Linked DNA regions of Homo sapiens: regions 1 and 2 are each linked to region 3. The links come from fine-mapping of genetic effects on gene expression. A gene starts in region 3. Each other region holds a variant in brackets. All regions are shown on one strand. Distances are from middle to middle.

What was found. PIP is the estimated chance that this variant, and not a neighbour inherited with it, causes the effect. A credible set is the group of variants that fine-mapping cannot tell apart.
Region 1: its variant is the best candidate, but not a certain one, in a credible set for the expression of DST in whole blood (INTERVAL, PIP 0.59).
Region 2: its variant is the best candidate, but not a certain one, in a credible set for the expression of DST in whole blood (TOPMed, PIP 0.89).

What each region holds. Positions count from the first base shown.
Region 1 is chr6:56,768,039-56,770,798 of GRCh38, forward strand. All of the region lies in intron 4 of DST (dystonin), which reads right to left. Among named protein-coding and RNA genes, the nearest start is that of DST-AS1, 75 kb to the right of the region's middle. The variant C/T (reference allele first, on the strand shown) is at 1,259.
Region 2 is chr6:56,757,738-56,760,497 of GRCh38, forward strand. All of the region lies in intron 4 of DST (dystonin), which reads right to left. Among named protein-coding and RNA genes, the nearest start is that of DST-AS1, 85 kb to the right of the region's middle. RefSeq lists a silencer at 10-59 and an enhancer at 1,741-2,297. The variant A/C (reference allele first, on the strand shown) is at 1,081.
Region 3 is chr6:56,953,546-56,956,305 of GRCh38, forward strand. It overlaps DST (dystonin), which reads right to left and starts at 1,285. Exons shown (of 104, transcript NM_001374736.1): 1 at 862-1,285; 2 at 240-274. The coding sequence starts at 1,042. BEND6 (BEN domain containing 6) reads left to right here and starts at 1,562. Exons shown (of 7, transcript NM_152731.3): 1 at 1,562-1,915. RefSeq lists an enhancer at 268-899 and a silencer at 1,061-1,750.

The DNA of each region.
Region 1 (2,760 bases), 190 kb before region 3:
TAAGCCATTTCGAAGACCTTCAATTTGATTCTCACTAAAATAGGAAGCCACTGGAGGGAGCTGAGGCAAAAGAATAACAGATCTGACTTGTGTTTAAAAAGGTAACCATTGTGTACCGAGAAAAAGTTTCTCAACACAGAATATTTACCAAGTGCTTATTTCTAAGGTATAAAAAATTATTCCAACCTAGAATAGACAACACAATCCCAGAAAATAACAAGTTGAATGACTAATACTACCCAATTTCAATACCTATTATAAAGCTACAGTTGTCGAAACAGTGTGGTTTTGGCAAAAGAAAAGTCAAGTCGACCAAAGGAACATAACAGAGGGCCCAGAAATAGACCCACACAAATTTAGTAAAGTGATCTTTGACAAAAAAGAAAAAGCAATTCAACAGAGAATGGATAATCTTTTCAACAAATGGTACTGGAACAACTGGACATCTATATGCAAAAAATATACAAATTTAGGCACAGACCTTATACCTTTCACAAAATTTAACTCAAAATGAATCACAGACTAAATGTAAAATTCAAAACTATAAAACTTTAGGAAGATAACATAAAAGAAAATCTAGATGACCCTGGATTTGATGATGAATTTTTAAATACAATACCAACATCATGATCCATAAAAGAAAAAACATAGGTTGGATTCATTAAAATTAAAAACCTCCACTCTGCAAAAGACACTGTTAAGAAAATGAAAAGATAAGCCACAGACTAAGAGAAAATATTTGCAAATCATGGCTGGGCACGGTGGCTCACACCTGTAATCCCAGCACTCTGGGAGGTCAAGGCAGGCGGATCAAGAGGTCAGGAGATCAAGACCATCCTGGCCAACATGGTGAAACCCCATCTCTACTAAAAATACAAAACTTAGCAGGGCATAGTGGAACCAGAGAGTCAGAGGTTGCAGTGAGCCAAGATCACACCACTGCACTCCAGCCTGGTGACAGAGTGAGACTCCATCGCAATATACACATATATTTGCAAATCACATATATGATAAAGAACTAGTATCCAAAATATACAAAGAAATCTTAAAAAATCAATCATAAGAAAGCAAACAACTCAGTTTAAAAGTGGGCAAAATATCTGAACAGACAGTTTACTAAAGGAAATATACAGTTGGCAAATAAGCATATAAAAAGATGCTCAACACCATATTAGAGAATTGCAAATTAAAACAACGTGAGACACCACTATACACATCTATTGGAATGGCTAAAATCTAAAAAGATTACAACACCAGA[C/T]GCTGGCAAGGAGGTGGAGCAACAGAAACTCTCTTTAACTGATGGTGGAAATGCAAAACAATACAGCTACTTTGAGTTGTTTCTTACAAAGCTAAACATAGTCTTACCATATAATTCAGCAATTACACTTCAAGGCATTAACCCAAATGATGTGAGAAGAGGAAGGATGCGGGAACTCTGTACTTTCTGCCTAATTTTTCTGTAAACTTAAACTGCTCTAAAAGTCTATTAAAAAAAAATTGGTCAGGCACGGTGGCTCATGTCTGTAATCCTCACACTTTGAGAGGCCAAAGCGGGTGGATTGAGTCCAGGAATTCAGGACCAGCCTGGGCAACATGGCAAAACCCCATCTCTACAAAAAAACACAAAAACTAGCCACGTGTAGTGGCAGGGACCTGTAGTCCCAGCTACTCAGGAGGCTGAGGCAGGAGAATCACCTGAGCCCGGGAGGTCAAGGCTGCAGTGAGCCAAGATCACGCCACTGCACTCCAGCCTGGGCAAGTGGCGTTGCAAGTTGAGACCCCGTTTCACAAAGAAGGAAAGAAAAAATGTATTCCTGTCCTCAAAAAGCTTATTCTCTTATTACTTTATTATCCATACTCTGCCCACTTCCAACATGGAGTTAACACATACGAAAAGGATACTAAAAGTAGAAATAAAATATCAAAACTCATGTGTAAGGAAATCAATACAGTTACATCAAAATTTTGGCTAAAGAGTTATTTATTGATGTTCCTTTGCTGACTTCCTTCAGTCAAGCCTCACTATATGTTCTCATTGCATATGAATCTGCCCTTCAGAGCATCCATTCTGGTGTTATAACTTAATCAGTGTCTAAACAGCAGATAAGACTCCTAAACAGCAGATAAGAGAGTTTAATGATGCAATAGTAACCAGGAAACCATTAATTTGGTAAAGAAACTGGGGTACAGAGAAGTTAGACAAATCATGAAAAGTCCCACTTAAAAATGGTACAGCCAGGTTTTCAACATTTGGTCTGTTTGACTCCCAGGCCTCATGGTATTGGTGTTACGCCATAAAGTATGATATAATTTTTGGACCTAATGTTATCTTCAAGTTGTAAAAGGCAGTGACTCAATAAAAATAATTTAGTTAAGCTGAAAATCAGCTGAATTTAATTTATAAAGATCATAATTTCTCCTAATTTCAAACCCTGCTAATACAATAAAACGCAGAGTGTGGGATGCCCTATTTCATTCCATGCATCCACATAGAGTTGGGGGCTCAGGTTCACTACTGGATAAACTAAAAGTTGGCATCCTCAGTCAATTTACCTGAGTGCTGCAACATAATAAGGGTTTGAAATGATGAACCAGGATTTTTCCCAGGCTAGTTTTTGCTACACCTGTAAAATGGGACTCTTACAGTAAAACCTGCTGCCTTTAAAAATGAAAACAAAGGGGCTGGGCACAGTGGCTCATGCCTGTAATCCCAACACTTTGGGAGGCCGAGGTGGGTGGATCGCCCGAGGTCAGGAGTTT
Region 2 (2,760 bases), 200 kb before region 3:
AATATGGCTCAAGCAGCCATCTAGGACCACAAAGCAGCAGCCTAAGTCTGCAGGAACAAGAAGTAAGGAGCCTCTGTGGATGGTGGCTATAACCATGCCAGTCCTGGACTGCCTCCTGCTGGACTTCTCTCAAGTAAGAGAAAAGTAAACTTCCTTCTCTTAAAGTTACTATTGTTTCATTTTCATGTGCAAAATAGAACCAATATTAGCCAACCTAATCCTACCCACAAATACAATGCTTTCCAACAAACCTACTACTAAGAGCTCTTTGAAATGGAAAATTTCCCAGGAAAGAAACAACTACCATTAATACAGCACAAAGTAAAGAACTTGGTATAATCAAGCGCGTACAACTGTAGCAGAAACTTTTCCCCATATCCTTGTATCCTTCTTTCTCAAAGAAACAAATTCTCTAATTATTAGCTAGGTGCAAATACACAAGGAATAAATACACATTTCCCAGCCTTCCTTGAGCTAGATGTGGCTATGTTCCAGTTCAGCTGTGGCCATTGAGATGAGAACAGAAGTGACTGTGCTACTTCTGAGGAGGGCCCTTGAAGGGGAATACAGTGCCTTTTTTTGTACTTCTTCAATCCAGATGGCTGGAATGCAGATGTGGTGGTGAAACATCTAAAAAAACATGTAAGAGTAACAACCTAGATGGCAAAGCAATGTGACAAAAGGAACCTGGGTCCCTGTTCCAGTTACTATGTGACAAACTACACTGGAATTCAACTATGAAAACCAACCATTTTTTTATGTTCAAGAATTCTGTAGGTCAGAAATTCAAACCAGGTACAAGGGGGGCAGGTTGCTGCTGTTCCATGATGTCTGGGCCTCAGCTAGTAACACTCAACAGCTGGGTGGCTTGACCACTGGGGACTGGAATCATCTGGAGGCATCCTCACTCACATGGCTGGTGGCTGATGTTAACTATTGGCTGGAACCTCATTTGAAGCAGTCAGCGAGAACAGCCACAGGTGTCATCTACATGTGGCCTGACTTTCTCACTGAATGGCAGCTTCAAGGTAGTCAAACTACTTTGTGGTAATTCAAGGTTCTAAAAGCAACGGACCCAGC[A/C]GCAAGGCAGAGGCTGCATCACCTTTCCTGACATAACCATGAAAGTCATGTGGTATTCTACTGGTTACAAGAGAGCCAGGTGCCCAACCAGATTCAACCAGAGTGCACAATGGGAAAAGCAGCAAAGAAGTTGCACACATGTTTTAAAACCCATACAGCGCCTGACCCTGAGCATCATACCAGCCCTGGCTGACCTCATGAAGCTGAGCTGCATTATCATCCTGCACTCCCCACCTCTCGACTGCTACATAAGTGGAAATACAAATGATCATTTAAAGCCACTATTATTGTGGGTCACTGCAGCAAATTTATAAAGAATACTTATGTACCCCAATATTTAAAAATAAATCAGCCCAGGCGCAGTGGCTCACGCCTGTAATCCCAGCACTCTGGGAGGCCGAAGTGGGCGGATCACTTGAGGTCAGGAGTTGGAGAGCCTGGCCAACATGGTGAAACCCTGTCTCTATTAAAAAGACAAAAAAAATTAGCCAGGCATGGTGGCACATGCCTGTAGTCCCAGCTACTCAGGAGGCTGAGGAAGGAGAATTGCTTTAATCGGGGAGGCAGAGGTTGCAGTGAGCCATGATTGCACCACTGCACTCCAGCCTGGGTGACAGAGTGAGAGACTCCATCCCAATAAATAAATAAATAAATCAAAAACCACAAGTAGCAAAAACGTCTATCTCAAGAAACTAATTTTACAGCTACAGGAATGACTTTGTAGTTTTAATTTATTTGATATTATTAACTGCTGGCATATTTTTTTCCATTCAAAATTTTTAATGACTATCAGAGACCTCTAATATATTACAATCCCTTTGTCAGTCATTTGCATGCTGCCAGTTTCCCTTCCTGGTTTGGTGCACTAAGGGGTTTCTGAGCTCAGACAATAAAGATGCTGACACAGCCAAGGAACTGCAGCCTGAAAACAAAGAGTTCCAGAGGCGCGTGTGAATCTGACTGGATGTGTCCTAAAGCCTCTCATTAAACAGCTACTCCCCATCAAAGACACTACACTCTAGGCAAGGCAAAGAGCACTCCTTCCACCTGCCATTCTTGTCCTCTAAGCAAAGTGAGTCCTTGAAGAATCTAATAGTTTCACAGAATCATTTTGTGGTCCAACCATAGAGTATGCACTGCATATGTCAAAATCCTTTTATTTTTTAAATTAACAAATAATAGGATTTCTATCTCCTTATACCCACTCAAAAAATAAAAGCATATAAAGGATATTTTGGTTCTTCCATGTCCCCCAAAAGCAAAAAAGAAAATAACTTTGAGAGAACACAAATTTAAAAGAAAATTGCACAAGTCTGAACATTTCTAAATATATTCAAAGACACATATCTAACTTTGAAATATGTACCTAGAGGCAAATAATTTAATAGCAAATCCATAGAATGAACTGCTAAGAAATGCCACATGATTAAGCCATGTTTTGGGGTAATATGGGTAAGGACATTAAACAACTTTGAGAATGAATTATTAAAATACACCTTTTAATGTATCTTATTTAAAACTTATTTAAAATTAGTTTCCAGCATCTCTTAATACTACTTTATTTTTTGTATGTCTCTCCATGTGTATCAGCCACTAAACCCCAGTAAGACCCACTGTGTAATGATGCTTAATCTTCTTCCTTTTTAAACTCTAATGTGTATCAGCTTTCAGATATTTATG
Region 3 (2,760 bases):
ACTTTTAGGGTTTGCCTTTTCCCCTCTTGTACAACAGCTCCACTACACAAGAAATTTGCTAAAACCGTTCGCTGGGCACTAATATGAAATCACTTAAAAGGAAACATGCCACTTTCGGCTAGGGGACAGCATGTTCGTCATTCAGTGTCCTACTGGTTTCTTAACACGCATATAATTAATATTGGTACTCAGGAAAGAGAACTTCTTCTGACCTTGAGCGTGCGCGCTAAATAAATTACCTCAGAACGAAAGTGGTGCGATCTCAAAACAGCATCTGGGGAGAAAAGAGATAAATGAGACTTCATTTAACTCCTTGTTCTTCACCTACCGAGTGACTCATGACTTACCTGGGAGACCAGGGTTGGGAAAGCACATCGCAGACTCCTGGAATTCGGTGGGACATCCTGGGGGAGGGAGGAGGAGTCCTGGGGCCATCGGTCTCTACGTGATTTCTCCGCGAGAAGTTTGCATGAAAGTTCTGGGGGAGTTGGGGAGCCCCGAAGTTTCCATGCCTTACTTTCTTACCCCTACGCTCCAGCGAAGGATGCGTGAAGGCGAGGCTGGCGCAGCCCCGGACTACGCTCAAATTACCCTTAAGGCTTTAGCAAACTGACTAAAAATTTGAGTTCTTTCCTCCCCTCCCTGCCCTCGGCATCGCCGTGGTTATTCAAACCTGGGAGACTGGAGGGCGGAGGTGACGGCAAAAAGGGCAAGGGGCGTTAAAGAAACGCACTCAGCCTGGGGAGTGGGCAATGATGGGGCTAGGGGCAGCCGAGGAGAAGGGAGCGAGCCGCGCTTCACTCTCCAAATCGGCTTAATTGTTCCTGGTAGCCCGCAGAAACCCGTCGCGGCGTGTCTTACCTCGGCTTCTTGAACGACCCGAGAAGACCGATTTCATCGGATGCCTCCCTTTCTGGAGCTTGCGGTGCCAGCAGCAGAAGAAGACGATGGTGGCGATGGTGCCCAGCAGAAGCAACAAGAGGAAGAGGGCACATTGGATGCTGTAGGGTCTCAGCAAGACGAGGAAAGCCGCGGCGATCATGGTGCGGGCGAGGCGAGGGCGACTCGACGGCGGGGCTGGAGGGCGGCGGCACAGGCACCCGCGCTGGGCGCACGCCGGGACGGCGGGCACGGGTGAGCGCGGCTCAGCGCGTCATGCCTGGCGCTCGCGGCCCCGCGCCCAGCCCAATGGCTGCGCACCCCGCGCCAGCCGCGCTACGCGAGTGATCCAGGGCTGCGGGGAGCGCTTGCCATGACTCAGCAGACAGCGACGAGGCTGCGACTCGGCGGCTGGGATCCTCTCCCCTCCCTCCCCAGGCGCCCCCGCCCCCGTCCGTGCGCAGCCCCCGGGCGCAGCCCCGCCGGGGACGCGGCGAGTGGGGAGGAGCAGCGCCGCCGCCGCGGCCGCCCGGGCCCCGCGCATCGTCCTGCGGCCGCCGCCGACCTCAGCATCCCAGAAGCCGGGCGCACGTGGGTCGGGGCGGGGACGCGGCGCTCAGGCTGCAGCCGCGGCAGCCTGCGGGGGGCGGGAATGGGGCGCCGCGGCGGGGGCTCGGCTGATGACATCACGGCCAGGCTGCGGCAGCGCGGGCGCGCGGACATGGCTGCGGCGGTTTCGGCGGCGTCCGCGGGCTGCACCCGGGCCTGAGAGCCCAGCGCCCTCCCGCGGGGCCGCCCGCCAGTCCGCGCCGTCCGCGGGTGCATTGGCCGGGTGCCTCTAGCTTCCCGGACACCCGGAGCTTCCGCCTATCCAGCCTCCCTCGGCCAAATTGCTGCGGAGCCCGTCGTCAGGGGGCGCCAAGGAGCCAGGGGGAAAACCGAGAGGCGCTGACAGGAGCCTCCCGGCGGTGCTACCCTCCACCTCCCACCTCCCTGCGCCCCGCCCCGAGGTTGGGGCTTTGAAGAATGCAGCCGGGTGAGCTATTGCTTGTGGGGGTTTCCTCGCACTCTGAAGCGCGAGCGCCGGGAAGGGCCTTCCCTGGGAATTGGGATACTCCAGGAACGGGAGGCCCACTCCTCTCCAAGCCTCTCTAAACTAGGAGCGCTCCGGGGTAGTACGCTCTGGTCGGCAGAGGTGAACTCTTCCACCCCAAACTTGGTGCTTATCTCGCAGCTAAGAATTGGGCACTTTCGATCTTCTTGTATCCCTGGGTTTGCCCTAAAACCCTGACTCATTTAGTGCATTTGAAGGGCAAGGCGATTTCAGATTTAGGGACCTGGCAGATGAAGTAAGTTGGTACTTGGCTTATAAACATTTGGGGGAGAAATTTTTTAGGGAGTGTGAGGCAATAGTGATCTCTCACACTTGCAGGCACACTCTGTCTCCCCTTTGTCCCCTCCCCACGTTTCTTCATAACCAGCAAAAAGTATATGGCAGTTGGTGGCCAGGGGATTTAACACTGATGCAATGCCAGCACGGAAGGTATAGCGAGAGCGCTGCAGTGTGCCTTTCTGCGGACGGCCACGGCCACCTGGCCAGGAAGCGGCTGCTGCAGCAGTCATTCTGCGGCATCTTGCGGCCTTGGCGGGCGGTGCTGTGCCGCGTTCTGCTGCCCCCAAGGCAATGCTGGCTTTCCCTGTGTGGGGCTGGATTGTTTGTTTCATTTACTCGCATAAGAAAACTTTAATTATAGTGACAAGGTAACACTTGACTGCATTTGCGGAGTTTCTTATAACAACTGTATTAGCCTCTTTTTTGGAATATTTAATAGACTGAAGAAATTGTGTCATAAAAATTTATAAAAATTTGAAAAGCAGGTA